4 linked regions of the Homo sapiens genome follow. The protein of the gene in region 3 purifies or fractionates together with the protein of the main gene of each other region. This does not show direct contact. Each region holds a gene or a part of one and is shown on either strand. Other genes may lie near its edges.

Region 1 (4,924 bases), on a different chromosome or scaffold from region 3:
GTAGGCATGGTGGCACATGCGTGTAGTCCCAGCTTGAACCCAGGGGGCGGAGGCTGCAGTGAGCTGAGATCGTGCCACTGCACTCCAGCCTGGGTGACAGAGTGAGACTCCATCTCTAAAAAAAAAGAAAAAAGAAACTACTTAAGTGTATACTTCAGGAAGAAGAAAATGAAAGGAATATAAATGTGAGAAAGTATGGTGAACAAAGACAATTCATTTCAGTTAGCATTGGCTTTTTAGAACAATAGTAATAATGATTAATTTGGGTAGTTTCATGGTTGTTGTTTTTTTTTTGAGATGGAGTCTCGCTCTGTCATCCAGGCTGGAGTGCAGTGGAGTAATCTCGGCTCACTGCAAGCTCCGCCTCCTGGGTTCATGCCATTCTCCTGCCTCAGTCTTCCGAGTAGCTGGGACTACAGGCGCCCGCCACCACACCTGGCTAATTTTTTGTATTTTTTAGTAGAGACGGGGTTTCACTGTGTTAGCCATGATGGTCTCAATCTCCTGACCTCGTGATCTGCCCACCTTGGCCTCCCAAAGTGCTGGGATTACAGGCGTGAGTCACCATGCCCAGCCTGAACCTGAGATTTCTTTATTAAGTAGGGGTCTCTCAGGAAGGCTATAACATCTGAAAAGAAACTTCTCAAAGTTAAGCTTTCTGGATTGCCACAGATTAGTATAAATCAAATACGAATTCACTCAAAAATCATCAAACGTGCAAGGACATAAACCACGTAAGTGAGAATTGGCAGAAACAATACAGTCAACTCAATAAATGCTGGGAAAAAAAGTATTTGATTAAATCCAGCACCTCATACATTTCTACCAAAAATGAATAAAAATGGGCTTCCCTAGCATATGTAGACTTTTAGAACTTAACTATGTATAGGACAGATCACCATTGCCCAAATTCTAGACTGGCCACTACCTGGTGCACATGTGTAATAGATATGAATAGCATTGCAAAGACTTTGGAAACTGAACTGACATTGGAACCACAACCCACAGAAGGCTGATCAGAACTTGTGGCCTGGACACAACCAGATTGATACCTTCTAAAACAAGAATATAGTCTAGGTCTGTGGCTCATGCCTGTAATCCCAGCACTTTGGGAGGCTGAGGTGGGAGGACTACTTGAGTCCAGGAATTTAAGACCAATCTGTGTAACATAAGGAGATCCTGTCTCTACAAAAAATACAAAAATTAGCTAGGTATGGTGGTGTGTACCTGTAGTCCCAGTTACTCAGGAGGCTGAGGGCAGAGGATCACTTGAGCCCAGGAGGTTGATGCTTCAGTGAGCCATGATTGTGCCATGCACTCCAACCTGAGTGACAGAACGAGTCCCTGTCCCAAATACACACATGCACATGCAACAAGAATATAAAACATTTTTTATTAAACAAGACCCAGAGTCTGATAGCATAATATTCAAAGAGTCCAAAATTACTTGGTATCAAAGAACAAGGAAAAATCTCAACTTGCACGGGAAAAGACTGTTGACAGAAGCCAACTCCTAGATGATACAAATGTTGGAATTATATGACAAGGACTTTAAAGAAGCTATTATTAAACTGTTCCAACAAGTAAGTGAATTTTCTTGAAATGAAAGGTATAAACTCTCGGCCAAAAATAGAGCATATAAAGAGAATAAAATAGAGATTTCAGAGCTAAGAAACACAGTAACAGAGATAAAACCTCATTGGATGGGTTCAATAGTAGAATGGAAATGAGAGAAAAAACGATCAACTTTGAAGATTATTCAATGGATATTATCCAATCTGAACATAGAAAAGAGATTGGAAAATTATCTAATTCTCAGCGACCTGTGCGACAATAATTAAAGATCTAAGATTTATGTCATTAGAGTCTCAGAAAGAGAGGAAAAAAGTATAGCGCAGAAAAAATACTTGAAAAAATAATGGCTGAAAAATTACCAAATTTGGTGAAAGACGTAAACCTACAGGTTCAAAAACCTCAGCAAACTCTAAACAGGATAAACACAAATAAATCATTGCCCAGACTTACCATAATCAAACTGCTGAAAGCTAAAGTTAAAGAAATCTTGTGAGTAGCCAGAGAATAATGGCACATTACTTACAAGAGAACATTGTGAATGACTACAGAGTGCTCATCAGAAACTATGGAGGTGAGAAGATAATGGAATAGCATTTTTAAAGTGCTAAAAGAAAAAAGAATTATCTCCTGGGTCTTGGCACCCAAAATTCTATGTCTACTGAAAACATCCTTCAGACTTGGAGGTCAAATAAATATTCTCATCAAGGGAAACTAAGGGAAATAATTGCCAGCAGACCTGCTGTAAAACAACTGCTAAGAAAATTCTTAAGACGAAAGAAAGTTAAGGAATGAAGAAACAGCAACAGAAATATCTGGGCAAATATAATGGACAGTTCCTCTCCTATTGAATTCTTTAAAATAGGGGTCCCCAAACCCCAGGCCGTGGATTGGTACCTGTCTGTGGCCTATTAGGAACCAGGCTGCACAGCAGGAGGTGAGCAGCGGGTGAGCGAGCCTTAGCACCCAAGCTCTGCCTCCTGTCAAATCAGTGGCATATTAGATTCTCATAGGAATGTGAACCGTGTTGTGACCATGCGAGGGATCTAGGTTGCATGCTCTTCATGAGAATCTAATATCTGATGATCTGAGATGGAACAGTTTCATCCTGAAACCATCCCCTGACTTCCCTATCCATGGAAAAATTGTCTTCCACGAAACTGGTCCCTGGTGCCAAAAGGGTTGGGAACTGCTGCTTTAAAATATATTTGATGGCTGGGCGCGGTGGCTCATGCCTGTAATCCCAGCACTTTGGGAGGCTGAGGCAGGTAGATCACCTGAGGTCAGGAGTTTGAGACCAGCCTGACCAACATAGCAAAACCCCGTCTCTATTACAAAGATAAAAACTTAGCTGGGCATGGTGGCAGGCGCCTGTAATCCCAGCTACTCGGGAGGCTGAGGCAGGAGAATCACTTGAACCTGGGAGGTTGCAGTGAGCCGAGATCATGCCACTGCACTCCAGCCTGGGCGACAGAGCGAGACTCTGTTTCAATCAATCCATCAATCAATTTGATGGCTGAAAACAAATTATGAAATTCTGATGGGGTTTTTAATGTGTGCAGAGGTAATATATAAGACATCTACAACATAAAGAGGGAAATATAAACAGTTCTAATATGGTGGTAAGGTTTCTACATTCCACCTGAAGTGGTAAAATAGTGATTCTATGTAGACTATAAAAAGCTAGGTATCTATATACCCCTAGAGCAACTACTAAAAAAAAACTACACAAAAAGATTTAGTCAAATATACAGTTGCTTAAAAATTAAATTTTGAAAAGTCTTCAAATAATCCAAAATAATGCAGGTGCAGGAACACAGAAGAATTTTAAAAACAGAATAAACAGAAAGCAAATAATAAAGTGGAAGATCAGCCAATACTGAAGATGGCCTACACTCACCAATTAAAAGGCAATTGTAAAACTAGACCAATATCCTTCATGAATATAGACACAAAAAATCCTCGACAACATATTAGCAAACCAAATCCAACAACATGTAAAAGGTAGTATATGCCATGACCAAACAGGATTTATCCCTGAAATGCAAAATTGGTTTAATAATTGAAAATCAATTAATGTAATACATCATATTAATAGAATCAAAACAAAAAACATATGATCATCGCAAGACACAGAAAAAGCATTTGACAAAAATCCAGTTACCATTTCATGATAAAACTGCTCAACAAATACATAGAAGGCTGCTTCCTCAACCTAATAAAAAGGGTCTACGAAAAACCCACAACTAACATCCTAATAAGAAAATAATGTGGATATCCCCTCTCACCACTTCTAAACATTGCACTCAGGGAATTAGTCAATAAATTAAATAAAAGGCATCCTGATTGGAAAGGACTAAGTAAAACACTTTGTACATGACAGTATCTTATATATACAAAATCCTAAAGAATTATTAAAATAGAACTAATCAACAAGTTCCAGCAAGGTTGTAGGATATAAGATCAATATAACAAAAATCAACTGTATTTCCATATACTAGCAATGACTAATCCAAAAATGAAACTTAAAAACAATTCTATTTACAATAACAAAGTATAAAAGGTTTAAAATTAAATTTATAAATTTAAATTATACTTAGATATGAATTTAACAAAAGAAACAGAACACATATACTGGAGGCCAGGCACAGTGGCTCATGCCTGTAATCCCAACACTTTGGGAGGCCGAGGCAGGCGATCACCTGAGGTCAGGAGTTTGAGACCTGCCCGGCCAACATGGTGAAACCCCATCTCTTCTAAAAATACAAAAATTAGCCAGGCCTGGTGGCACGCGCCTGTAGTTCCAGCTCCTCAGGATGCTGAGGCGGGATAATCGCTTGAACCTGGGAGGCAGAGGTTGCAGTGAGCTGAGATTGTGCCATTGCACTCCAGCCTGGGTGACAAGAGCAAAACTCCATCTCAAAAAGAATACATATACTGGAAACTATAAAACCTTGTTGAAAGAAATTTTAAAAGATCTAAGTAAGGCTGGGAGCGGTGGCTCACATCTGTAATTCCAGCACTTTGGGAGGTCAAGGTGGGGCAGATCACGAGGTCAGGAGTTCGGGACCAGCCTGGCCAATATGGTGAAACCCTGTCTCTACTAAAAATACAAAAATTAGCTGGGTGTGGTGGCCCGCACCTGTAGTCCCAGCTACTCGGGAGGCTGAGGCAGAAGATTCACTTGAACCCAGAAGGCAGAGTTTGCAGTGAACTGAGAATGCACCACTGTACTCCAGCCTGGGTATCAGAAGGAGACTCCATCTCAAAAAAAAAAAAAAAAAAAAAAAGATCTAAATAAGTGAAAAGACATCTCATGTTGATTGATCAGAAGACTAAATATTAAGACCAA
Region 2 (3,500 bases), on a different chromosome or scaffold from region 3:
GGTTCCTGCTCTCCCAGGCAGGAAGTGGGAGGGCTCTGAAGAGGGAAAAACAAGCCCATCTGGGCCAAGGCTGTTTTCCTTCCACCCTCCAGTGAAATACTTGCTTCCCTGCAGGCCCAGATGCAAATGTCTTGGCGAGAAAGTCCCTTTTGGAAAAAATTAAAACCCAACAGTAACCTTTCCCACAGTGAAACAGTTCTTGTCCCAGGAACACATGCAAATGATGGTTCTCACACAAGTTACTTCCCCGCTCAGGGCCTTAGTCTCCTCCTCTATAAAATGGGACAAGGCACATGGGGTCATTCTGAGAATGCAAAGAGATGAAGCAAACTGTGGTGAGACACGTGGCAGACGGCGTCTCCTCCCAGCATCTGCATGAACGGTTACCCAGCCAGATGCCCACTCAGCGCTCTGTGGGCACTGCCTCATCTAAGCCTCACCCCTGTGGGCAGCACAACAGTTATCCCCTCCCAGCAGACAAGAAAACCAAGGCACAGAGAGTTGTCCATGACTTGTCACATGGACCTTCTCCTCACCCGCCAACCAAGAAGTGCTCATCCTCCTCAGCTCTGCTTGGCCTCCAGACCTGGTCTTCCCAGAGGACATTTCTGACCTCAACACTCAGGCCCAAAAAACATTCTGTAGCCCGCCCTCCCTCTCCTAAGACTCATCTCCACTCCTCTCTGCGAGGCCTCCCTGCCCAGTGAAGCCCTCAGAGTCCTCCCAAAGACTCCTCTGTAAAACAGGACAAGACCCCCTGTCCAGCCCAGCTCAAGGGTCACTCTGAGAATCCAAAGAGATGAAGCAAAATGTGGTGGTCAGGCCACCACAGTCAGGCAGCCTAGCTCAGACTGGCCCTTGATGGAACCAGCTCCTCCAGCCAGCTGGTCTGACCCCTTGGGCGTGCATGTGGTCTTTTCCAGGGACTGGGCCCTTCCCACCCCTTAGTTCCTGGGCTAACATGGCACATCGCCAGAGGCAGAGATGGCTGCCAGCTCCTTCACAGGCCAACCCTCTAGCTGGGGAAGGTGACATCGTAAGTCTACAGTGTCTCTACGGTGTCTCTTCCTCACCTCCACCAGCCCAGGGGCCTAGCTTGGAGCTGAACAACTCATGCTGACCGAGGGCTGGGACCCCTCAGAGCCTAGCAGGACACTTCTCAGACGGCCTGCCTGGCCCCGCGTGCCTGTTGTGGCCTAGTGCTTCTGACAGTGTGCCATGGTAGCCCAGAAACTAAGGGGTGGGAGGGGCCCAGCCTCTGGAAAAGACCACATGCACACCCTAGGGGTCAGACCAGCTGGCTGGAGGAGTTGGTTCCATAGCCATCTGTTCTAGGCAGGCTGAGTACCCCCAGGGGCAAAGGAGCCTCCTCTGACAAGACGGATTCCAGAGGTTCTCATCTCATCTCATCTCATCTCATCTCATCTCATCTCATCTCATCTCATCTCCCCAACTACCCCTGAGCAATGCAAGGCTCCCAGGTGACTCTCCCTCCCTCCGTGGGCAGGGAGCCCTAGAGTCTCCCTCCATTCGTGGGGGGGGGGTGCCTAGAGTCTCCCTCCCTCCGTGGGTGGGGGACCCTAGAGTAGGCCCCGTGCTTTGGCACCTCTCATCTCACAGGATCCTCCCCACTGCCCTCTGGGGTACCCACAGAGGAGGCATCTCGGAGGCTCAGAGAGCTGGTCCTTTACCCAGTGTCACACAGAATAGCCAACACCTGATCTAGGTCTCTGGATGGCAAGACCACAGGGCCTGACAATGAAACCCTGCTTCTCAGTCACTCGAACCCCAAACTCTTCACACAGCCAGGCCCCTGCCACCCTCTCCACCCACAGCGCAGCCCTTCCCGGGCTTCCTCATCTGCTGTAGCCATGCTTGCGACCTGCCTCAGGGACTTTGAACTCATGGCTCTCTCTGCCTGGGATGCTCTGGACAAGTCTTTATGGCTGGCTCCTTCTCTATTTGAGCTTCAGCTGAAATGTCAGCTCCTCATAAAGGCTTTCCCTGACCACATCATCGAAAGTGGAAACGCCCATCCCTCCCCACTTGCTCCCTAATTTTCTCCTTAGCACCTATCACAAGTGATATTTATTTACTGCTCTGTCTTCCAAGGCCTGGACTAAACCTGTCTTGTTCATAGTTGCTTCCCACACCTATCACGGTATCACAGTGCCTGGCATTCAGTAGGCATCAAATAACTATTTGTTGACTTAATGAACAAACCAACCAACCAGAGAGCACGGCTGGTTAAGACTGAATGCTCCTGCCTTCCAACAAGAAGTCAATTCAAACCCATTCACATCTAAAAGTTCTCTCTGGGAAAGGTTGTTTTGTTGTTGTTTTTTTTTTTTTTTTTTTTGTCTGTTTTGTTTTCCCCCCATCAACCTCTTCTGACCAGACTTACCCAGAAAACATCTTTCCCCTGTGTGGAGCCAGTTGGTACAGAAATTTCATTATCAGTCCCTTATCAGGTTGACCGTGAGCCCCACCCCAGGGTGGCACTGTGAGTCACCTGGGAAGAAAGGCCTCCGGGCAGGAGGGCAGGTGGTTATTCCTGCTTCTCCAGGAACCAACCCAAAGGCAGCAAGGTCCAGTCCTACGACATAAAGCAATTCCTCTATTAAAGCGGGGAACGAGACCATGTACAAAGTCTAGGTTAAGAGCGAAGGACACTTCTCAGGGCCTTAGTTTGCTCATCTATAAAATGAAGGTGTTGGAAGGTTCTCCAAACCCCTGGCAGGGCTGCAGCCCTGATTCTCTGGATTTTAAAGGCTCTGTGGCCAGACTGGGGGAGGGGAGGACCTCTCTGTGCCCGAGGCCTGAGCCCAGTCTGATGCTATGAGATCATCTCTGACAGCCCGTTAGGCACGGCTGGCCACTTCTCCAATATGAAGGCTGCCCCACTTTCAGCTTCACTATTTGAGTTTCACTATTTGGAATGCTTACCTAGAGCCAGAAAATGAACTTTGCTCGACAAATCAAACACAATAAGAAAGATAATTAAAGAAATAAAATGTCTACATATATGTACAAGATGTCCAGATGGATGTTTACCAACATATAACAGTGGCTGAATCCCAGTGGTAGAATCAAAGGGGACTTTTGCTGTTTTCGTTGTACTTTCCCAAATGGCTTGAATCTTTTAAGCTATGCGCATGTATGATTTTCACAAAAATAATAAAGCTCTTCTCGAAAGTAAAAATCTCCTGGAAACTGTCTCCAGAGAAGTGCTTTCTTTTTGGCCTGGCTTCACCTAGTGCTTCACTGGGAGGCCAGGGACGTGGCCTCTTTCAGAAAGGTTATCTTCTACCCTCACCCTGAGACCAGGGAGAAACATACATGGCGCCTGGAAAGGTCATGGGGGCCCGAGGAAGAAACTGGAGTCAGGCAGCCTGGATCTGGTCTTGGCCTGTCACTGACTTGCTGTGGGCTTTCAGGCAACTCACTTCTCTTCAGGCCTCTGATTTCTTATCGGTAAATTTAAAAGGCTGCACTAGAGG
Region 3 (4,924 bases):
TAACAGAAGCAGATCACACAGTGCATGAGAAGCTGGTGTGTGCTATGAGGAGCATGGAGTAGGGCAGGGGCCTGGGTTCGGGGGAGGTATCGGATATTTAGTTGGGTGGTCAGAGTGGGCCTCCTGGGTGGGGGATGGTTGCTGTTCCAAGTGGAGCAAAGAGCTGGTGTGAAGGCCCTGGATAGGGAGATGCTGGTGTGGTTAGGACCCAGCAGGGAGGGGCTGGTGTGAGGGATGCAGAAGGCACAAGGGAGAGAGGGGGCAAGAAGGTGCTGTGGCCAGGTTGCGGTGCTCAGAGGCTGCTGCCAGGACTTGGCTCTAGGTGAGAGGGGGCCATTGTGGGGCTCTGAATAGAGGAAGGTCATGATCCGGCATGGCTGCTGGATTGAGAATAGACTACAGGGGTCAAGGGAGGGAGCAGGGGCGAGGCGAGAGGATGGTGGCCCCAGCCAGGGTTGTAAGGAGGACATGGGGAGACGGGTTCAATGGTGTCTTTTCAAAGTGGCCTCAGCAGAACTTGATGGTGGGTTGGGAGGCGTGACATACTGGCATGTGGATGGGAAGGACGAGTAGAGGCAGGAGTTTCTGGAGCCGTGTCTGTGAGTAGAAGGGCTCCAGGGCCCAGCTCAGGCTCCTGCTTCAGGAAGAGCCTGGTGGGCCTCGAGAATATCAGCGGGAGGTGGCGTGCCCTGTGCTGGACCATGGGACGGTGGCTCCAGTCCCAGGAAGGTCTCCCCTTGCTCCTTCCATCTTCTCTGTGAAATACGAGGCCGGGTCATCAGGTGTGAAACGTGGGCACTGCCCCCCACCACCCTAGGTAGACTCCAGTGGCTGTAGGGCTGTGAGTCACAGGGGTGAGGAGGTCCAGCTGCCCTGAGGCATTGGATGGGGGTGGGGAGCTGGGGAGGCTGGAGGATGGGTGGGCACAGGCCTCAGGATGCTCTCAGGTGACAAGATTGCTGAAGGTCTTGCACTAGCACATTTATATTTTTATATTTCTTTTGTACCATGATGTTTTCTGATATCCTAGAACAGTTTTTTCTTAACCCTTGTATTTCTGGCAACTGAGGATGTTGTTAGAAAGTGCCATCTTTATCAAAGAACTGAGAGCAGGTGCTCGGTACACATTTTCTTCACATGTGTATTTATAGACAGATCTCTGGAATTGCATTATTTTGCAGCTTCAAAGAACCCCCGCTCTTGCTTGGTGTTCTGCATCCAAATACGAAGCTGCGACAGGCAGAAAGGCTGTTTGAAAATCAACTTGTTGGACCGGAGTCCATAGCACATATTGGGGGTAAGTCTAAGCTTGGGTGGGGGGGGAGCCTTCCAGGCTGTCTGTTGTCTGAGGGGGCGGGTTCTGTGGGAGCAGCTGCAGTGGCACGCTGCCCCTGGACTGGGGCCCTGCACATCCTTCTTAGCTGCGGACGTGGGACTTGGCCCTCAGACATCACATGGGAGGCCCTAGTGGCTCTTTCTGCTGGTCTCATCTGCCCAGTTTGCATGCCATTTTAGCACTGGGTGATTTTGAATTCATCTCTATGGAACACTTTGTTGTGCTCAAAGTGTTGTGAAAGGAAAAAGGCCAAATACAGATACTGATTTTTAGTTCATTTATCAAAGTTAAATAGCTATTTGACAGCACAGTATTTCTTAGTTCCATTTGCTTTGTATAGATTTCACTGTGATGAAGACAAATGGTTCTCAATATTTCCACTGTTTTTGTCTGACTGTTTGAAATCTCACCTTGATGGGTACACTTAAGGGTAACCATCTGCATCACACTTGCCCATGCCTCAGAACTAGAATTGGGTCTGGTTCTAATACTTGCATCTCTAGCAACCTTGAACAAGGCATTTTCTGTTTGTTAAAATGAGAATTAAGTTTAGTATTGGGAAGGCACAGATAGTCACAGATAGTTTAAAACTTAATCTGGTATGGGCTTGCTGAGCAGCTTCTTTGGAAGTGCCGCTTGTTATTCTGAAGCACACTGTTCTCCAGGCAGTGGGTGGCTGTGGATATGTGCACACAGGGTGCTTCTGTTGTGCTCTCAAGGCCGGTCAGTGGCCTCTCTTCTAGTGACGTTTGACCAGCTTCTCTTGCCTGGGCCCTGTTATTTGACACAGGCCCCAAGGACTGGTCCATTTCTGCAGTTGGTTTGTTTTCTTGGCTGTCAAAGTCAAAATTGTTTCAAGAAGAGTAAATATCATGATAGAACTTTGTATTTCTCTTAAAAAGACATTGGCATTTATTTGTGTAAATTTTAAAAGCTTTAGCTTTTTTTGGTGAAAAATCAAATCTTGCTCTTTAAAACTGAAACTTAACAGCAGTTGAAGTGCAAACCAATGATCTTACCTCCCAAAGAGAGCACTTTCCTGTCTTTTTCTTTTTCACTGGGTTACTTCTCATTGTACTTTGTCACCAGGTCCCAGCTTTTTCTCTTTCTTTGATGAGCTGGTGACATTTCTTGGCCAGGCACAGTGGGGTCCTCTCTGGTGGGTGTGAGCCGCAGGGACCTGCCACTGCTGTCTCTGCCACCTCATTTGGAAGCTGTCCTGGGGGCTGGCTGGCAGGTTGCTGACAGTGGAAGGAGGTACTAGCTCTGGGGAGTGCTGGGAGAGAGTAACCACCAACTATAGCAGGCTTTATTTTATTTGTTTTTAAGTAGACTTTATTTTTAAGAGCAGTTTTAGGTTCACAGCAAAATTGAGCAGAAGGTACAGAGATTTTCTGAAAAAGAGTTTTTATTACGATTGGGTGTTGCATTTCGTCAAATACTTTTTCTGCACACATGCCATGCACAGCCTCCCACATGATCAACATCCCCCACCACAAGGGTAAGTTTGTTACAAGTGATGTACTCACATCAATACGTCAATAGTACTCGGAGTCTGTAGTTTACGGTAGGGTTCACTCTTGGTTTTATACATTCTATGGGTTTGGACAAATGCCATGTATCCACTGTTATGGTATCTTACAGGGTGTTTTCACTGCCCTGAAAATCCTCTTTGCTCTGCCTGTTCATTCCACCCTTTTCTTTTAACCCATGGCAACCACTGATCTTTTTGCCATCTCCATAGTTTTGCCTTTTCCAGAATGTTATGTAGCTGGACTCATACAGTATGTAGCCTTTTCAGATTGGCATCTTTCACTTAGTAGTATGCATTTATTTAAAATTCCTCCATGTCTTTCCATGGGTTGATAGCTCATTTCTTTTTAGCACTGAGTAATATTCCATTGTATGGATGTGCCACAGTTTAGTTACCTACTGAAGTACATCTTGGTTGCTGCTAAGTTTTGGCAGTTATGAATAAGGCTGGTATAAACATCTGTGGGCAGGTTTTTGTGTGGACCTAAGTTTTCAGCTCATTTGGGTAAATACCGAAAAGCATAATTGCTGGATTGTATGGTAAGAGTTAAGTTTTGTAAGAAACCACCAAGCGTTTCCAAAGTGGCTGTACCATTTGCCTTCCCATTAACAATTAGTGAGAGTTCCTGATGCTCCATGTCCTCGCCAGCATTTGGTGGTGTCAGTGTTTTGGATTTTGGCCCTTTTAATAGGTGTATAGTGGTGTCTCGTTGTTTTAATTTGCATTTCTCTGATGATATTTGATGTGGAATATCTTCATATGCCTACCTGCCATCTGTATATCTTCTTGGTGATGTGTCTGTTCAGGCCTTTTGCCCATTTTTGTAATTGGGTTGTTCATTTTCTTATTGTTGAGTTTTAAGAGTTGTTTGTGTATTTTGGATAATAGTTCTTTATCAGACATGTTGTTTGCCAATATTTTCTCCAGTCTGTGGCTTCTCATTCTTTTGACAGTATCTTCTGTAGAGCAAGAGTTTTTAATTTTAATGAAGTTTCACTTATTAATTATTTCTTCATGTATCTCACCTTGGTTTTATATCTAAAAATTCATCATCATACCCTAGGTGTTATATCTAAAAATTCATCATCATACCTAGATTTTCTCCTATGTTCTAGGAATTTGTTTTGTATTTTATATTTAGGTCTATGATCCATTTTGAATTCCATTTTTGTGAAGGGTATAAGGTTTGTGTCTAGATTTATTTGTTTGCATGTGGATGCAAACAAATTTGTTCCAGCACCATTTGTGGAAAACACTGTCTTTTCTCCATTATGCATTGCCTTTACTCCTTTGTCAAAAGATCAGTTGATTGTATTTATGTGGGTCTGTCTCTGGGCTAAAAATTTTATCTGTTCTATTGATTTATTTTTCTATTCTTTTGCTAATACCACATTGTCTTGATTACTGTAGCTTTATAGAGAATCTTGAAGTTGAGTAGTTTCAGTCCTCTGACTTTATTCTTTTCCTTCAATATTGTATTGGATATTTTGAGTCTTCGCCCTCTCCATATGAACTTTAGGATTCATTTGTCTGTATCTACAAAATAACTTGCTGGGATTTTGATTGGGATTGCATTGAATCTATAGATTAAGGTTGGGAAAAACTGACATCTTGACAATATTGAGTATTCCTGTCCATGAACATGGAATATCTCTCCATTTATTTAGTTCTTTGATTTCTTTCATCAGAATATTCTAGTTTTCCTCATATAGACCTCGTGTATATTATATTATATTTATACCTAAGTATGCCAATCTTTTGGATGCTAATGTACATAGTATTGTGTTTTCAATTCCAAATTCCATTTGTTCATTGTTAGTATAAAGGAAGGTGAGTCAATATCTTGCAATATCCTGCAACCATGCTATAATTGCTTGGTTCCAGGAGGGTTTTTTGTTGTTGTTGATTCTTTCAGATTTTCTATCTAGACAATTATGTCACTTGCAAACAAAGAAAGTTTTATTTCTTTCTTCTCAATCTGTATACCTTTTGTTTCCTTTTCATGTCTTACTGCATTAGCTAGGTCTTCAAGTATGATACTGAAAAGGAGTGGT
Region 4 (4,924 bases), on a different chromosome or scaffold from region 3:
ATTATAGCTTAAAACTACACTAAGACTTTTGGGACACCATATATTAGTGATTATTCAGGAAAGTTATCCCTCTATTTATATTAAAAGGAACTCAAATTCCTTTACCAATAATTACTAACTGAGGAAATCAGAGCCCTTTATTTAAATGTTCTGCAGATTGCAGGCAATGGGAGCAGGAAATGAAAGAGATCTCGGAAATGGCCCAGGTAAAGGAGATAAACCCTAGAAAAGAAACCACAATTGTATTAATTCTATCTTCATTCCATGTCTTCTCCTACTAAACACATGAAGAAGAAATGGGTTATTTTAATAACCTAAACATAGCAGGAACTAAATATGGTTTATCCTTGAGTATCGTAACAAAAAAAGGCCCACAAAATTCAAGTGAGCAGAGCACTCTCCTTTCCTTAACTAAAAAACTTACGGGAGAAATCATCTCCACTGGGCACAATGGCTCATGCCTGTAATCCCAGCACTTTGAGAGGCCAGGGCAGGAGGACTGCTTGAGCCCAGGAGTTTGAGAACAGCCAGGGCAACAAAGCAAGACCTTGTCTCCACAAAAAATAAAAAATTAGCTGGGCGTGGTGGCACACACCTGTAGTCCCAGCTACTCAGGAGGGTGAGGTGGGAGGCTCATGTGAGCCCAATAAGTTGAGGCTGCAGTAAGCTTTGACTGTGCCACTGCATTCCAGCCTGGGTGACAGAGCAAGACCCTGGTCTCAAAAAAAAAAAAGGGGGGGGGGGGAAGAAATCATCTCCTAACTTTACAGTGTCACATCCTCATTCCTAATGCCACCTGCACCTCCACTTCACACACGAGGGTGATCGATCACCCTAAACCATCTGCTCACCAGGGCTCTGCATATGGGGTCACCTTGGCCCCATGTGATCCCATGGCTGCTGTCTAGTCTGGGCGTCAGTGACCCTGCACTCCCTACATGTGACTGCTCCTCTGCAGACCCCGTCCAATCAGCTCTCCATTTCTGTCCTGGCTGCTTCTCACCCTCGGTGATCTCATGCATCACTGTGCTTCAACCCATACCTCAATTTAAAGAACTCTCTTCTCTCTCCTGGTCTCACATTTCTACTACCTGTTAAACTTCCCAAGGATCTCCTGACAGAATCTCAAGTTCAGAAGTCTAAACAGAACTGTTTCTCCATTTGACCTTGCTCTTTTTCCCTTATTCCCCACCTTGGTTAACAATATCATCATCTTCCTAGTTTTGAAACCCTGGGGATCACTGACTTCTTTCTTTTTCTAATTCCCTATGCCCAGTCAGTTTAGCACTTCACACCATGTTTTTAAGATATCTCAAAAGGGCTTCCTAGTTCACAAGGCCCTATTAATTCTAATTCCAAAAATGTCCCTAGTTTTTAGTCTTCCTTTCCAGTTCCCAAAATTGTAACTCCGGATCATGCCATTATTACTCATAACACCTGGATCACCAATACAGTCTCCCAAGGGCTCTCCCTGCACACAATTTTTCCCACTTCAGTCCACCTACTGTCAAGAACGTCTGCTTAAAACAGATCTATTCATGTTACCTATCTATTGCCCACTGTAACCTCTTTCACACAGGCTGCTTGAGGATTAAATGAGTTAATACATGCAGGACGCTTAGAACAAAACCTCATACACACTCTACCAAACATGTTCAAACTCCACTGCTGAACCTCACGTAAAGCTACCCGTGACCTACCCTTACTCTACCTTACCATCCCGTTCCACCACACTTTTTCTGTATGCCTCTTGACACTTCCTGCGTGTTCCCATTGGGTGGCTCCTTCACTAGGACTGCCTTACAACCCAAGCTTCTGCTAGTCATCTGTGAAGATTCGCTGCTGGCCACTTTCTTTCTGGAACTTTCCCAACCCTACCATGCTCCCTTTTTCACACCCTATGCAACAAATCCGCACCTCTCTTGGAGCATTTTTCACAGTGTGGTTCGTAGAATATTTCCAGGCGCCCAAATGCACAGTGGCACTGAACTCTCCACCCCCTGCAACTGCATGTGGCTGCTAGACCTACTTTGGCTAGTGTTCAAATGTCCACTCTTCCTCCCTGAGGTCCCTGGGGAGGACCTCAACCTAGGGAGATTGTATCGTAATCCCCACTCTGTCAACTCAGGTACTTAAGGCAGTGCTTAGTGTTATGCTGAAGGAATGTTTAATTAGATGATTTAATTTTGTGATGTGAAACTTGGAAGTGAATTTTTTTTTGTTCATTTAAATGTTTCAGAGATGTTAATATCCAATTAGCTTTTGTTCTGTTTCCCAACCCTTTGGTTTTTTTTGAAAACTAACAACCTAAATATTAATAATAATTTATATTTCTATGCATTGGATAGAACTCAATATTTACAGGAACTGTTTGGACAAACCTGTTAATTCAACTAGTCATTCCTCAGTTTAATAATATCAGATTTTCTTTTTTTGTGAGACAGAGTCTTGCTCTGTCGCCCAGGCTGGAGTGCAGTGGCGTGATCTCGGCTCACTGTAACCTCCGCCTCCTGGGTTCAAGCAATTATCTGCCCCAGCCTCTCGAGTAGCTGGGATTACAGAAGCCCGCCACCACAACCGGCTAATTTTTGTATTTTTAGTAGAGATGGGGTTTCACCATCTTGGTCAGGCTGGTCTTGAACTCCTGACTTCGTGATCCACCCACCTCGGCCTCCCAAAGTACTGGGATTACAGGCATGAGCCACCATGCCTGGTCGCAGATTTTCTTAAAGTTAAGGTTAAGGCATGTCTGAATTGTTATTTGCATTTTCCTTGGTCTAGTTTTCTTGTTTTTGCCTTTATATTTTTCCTTTTTTTTTTTCCTTCTGAGATGGGGTTTTGCCATGTTGCCCAGGCTAGTCTCAAACTCCTGAGCTCAAGCAACTGGCCAGCCTCAGCCTCTCAAAGTGCTGGGATTACAGACGTAAGACACCACACCCGGCCTTATACTTTTCCTTTAATTTGCTATTGTAAAAAACAGTCGTGTCTTAAAAAAAAAAAATCAGACAAGTACCTTGAAGCTTTTGGAGGAAAGCTCTTAGGATATTCCAATAAATTAACCACATTCTTTATGTTACTCATATTGTACTCCCTGTGAACTGTACACCAAGAAAGCTAAGCTTCAGATTATAATAATGACTTTCATCTTCTACTTCTAACACCAAACTTTGGCTAGTTTGTTTTTATATTTTTACCTCCATAGATCCATGTTCTCCAGTAGCAAAGGGTAAAAGGCTTTCATAGAGTTTTGTGAATGCAGCCAATCCAGTCTCTATGATCTCTGCTTCTATGCTGGGATCCAAAGGCTCAGTCTCTGTGAAATCCAGTTCCCACACTGTGTCAACCCATTCTAGGGGAAAATGCAATGAAATGTGTAAGTACTCTGTAACAAGTAAAAAAACTAGTCACCTTTAGATTCCAGGTGTGTTCAAGAGGAGAAAAGTTTACTAGTCACGATTCACATTTAACTTGTTTTAATAACATAGGTGTAGCATAATAAAAGAAAACCAGAAAAGGTTAAGAGAATCTTAAATCACAACTGACACTGACTATTAAGCTAATCATCTTCTAAAAATATAAAGGAGGAAATACTTTTCAGATACAAGAGTTTTGGGAAAGGACACTTCAAAACATTCAGTGATCAGGCTTTCCCACATGTTCAATCTAGAGAAGAAACAGAGGTTAATCAGATTGCCCACGAGGTTCCTTTGTGAAAATATCATAACCAAGTTAATAAGTGGAAATAAAATATAGAGCACTTTATTGGGCCCTTGGACAATCATGTAGCATTTAAAAAACATATATAATTTCTCCAGGAAGTTTAAAATAGAAGAGGCAACCCAGATTCAGACTCCCAGGAATACTTGGTGACTTTAAAACACACTGATTGAAAGAATGTACATTGAGAGGAGGGGTATTAAGACAGCACGCTGGCTGGATTCCACCAATCTCTCTTAACTCTAAATCTTCCCATTCTTTTCTTTTTCTTTTTTTTTTGGATAAACTTTTTTTTTTAACTTAAAGTTTTTGGGTACATGTGCACAACATGCAGGTTTGTTACATAGGTATACACGTACCATGGTGGTTTGCTGTACCCATCAACCCGTCATCTACATTAGGTATTTCTCCTAATGGTATCCCTCCCCTATCCCTCCATCCCCCCTTCCCATTCTTTTCTAATACACTATATTTCTTCAGTGTTGTCATTGTCACTTTCCCAAACTAAAATTAGGACTAGATGGAAATGTGGACATCTCAAATTATTAATCAGGTGTTCCTTCAAATTAATATTAAAAGTATTTGTTCACCACTGATTTAGAGAAGTTGGGCAAGGTATAAATAAGGAAAAAACAGAGATGGGAGCATTACACTGCACTCGGCAAATGAAAATGAAAGGCCTTACACTCAACTAGTTCCATCCTTAGAATACAATCTGGTCATCATCTTTTGTCACTTGAACTTGACCCTGAAGGAGGGGGTCTCTGTACCCTAAGTGGCTATGCACAGCATTCCTTCCAAAGACATGGAATATGCTGCCTGAAAGAAGATCTGAAAAATACAATTGTTTCTTTCCAAATTTCCAGTAATGTTTTAAAGGTCATTATAGACCACAGCAAAAGTTATCTCACTCCTTCTTTTGGTTTTGCTTATGACAGTTCCCTACTGTAAATACCATCAAATCTAATTTGGATGGCAGTAACTGGCCCTGTTATCTACCATTTGGTCACAGAAGTCTTCAGTGTTGATTGTTGAGTGAGAGTATAGGAGACACTGAGTTAGTCTTTTTCCCTCAGTATCTTTACACTATTCAAATCTCTCACTACCTATTTTCTCAGCTGTCGAATGCAGGTAACTTCTGCTCTGCTACTTCACTTAGGATGGAAGAAGAGGAAGAAATACATCACCTATTCACTCAACAAACACT

What was found.
Region 1: the proteins of APMAP (region 3) and ATF1 purify together in Homo sapiens (co-immunoprecipitation; one large-scale study listed by IntAct). This does not show direct contact.
Region 2: the proteins of APMAP (region 3) and TSPAN15 purify together in Homo sapiens (co-immunoprecipitation; one large-scale study listed by IntAct). This does not show direct contact.
Region 4: the proteins of APMAP (region 3) and NCAPD3 purify together in Homo sapiens (co-immunoprecipitation; one large-scale study listed by IntAct). This does not show direct contact.

What each region holds. Positions count from the first base shown.
Region 1 is NC_000012.12:50,798,033-50,802,956, forward strand, and holds part of ATF1 (cyclic AMP-dependent transcription factor ATF-1), read left to right. Parts: intron 1-4,924.
Region 2 is NC_000010.11:69,457,965-69,461,464, reverse strand, and holds part of TSPAN15 (tetraspanin-15), read right to left. Parts: intron 1-3,500. UniProt on the Homo sapiens protein: Part of TspanC8 subgroup, composed of 6 members that interact with the transmembrane metalloprotease ADAM10.
Region 3 is NC_000020.11:24,975,140-24,980,063, reverse strand, and holds part of APMAP (adipocyte plasma membrane-associated protein), read left to right. Parts: intron 1-1,181; coding exon 1,182-1,297; intron 1,298-4,924. UniProt on the Homo sapiens protein: Exhibits strong arylesterase activity with beta-naphthyl acetate and phenyl acetate. May play a role in adipocyte differentiation.
Region 4 is NC_000011.10:134,217,378-134,222,301, forward strand, and holds part of NCAPD3 (condensin-2 complex subunit D3), read right to left. Parts: intron 3,350-4,924; coding exon 3,195-3,349; intron 3,115-3,194; exon of another isoform or gene 3,014-3,114; intron 1-3,013.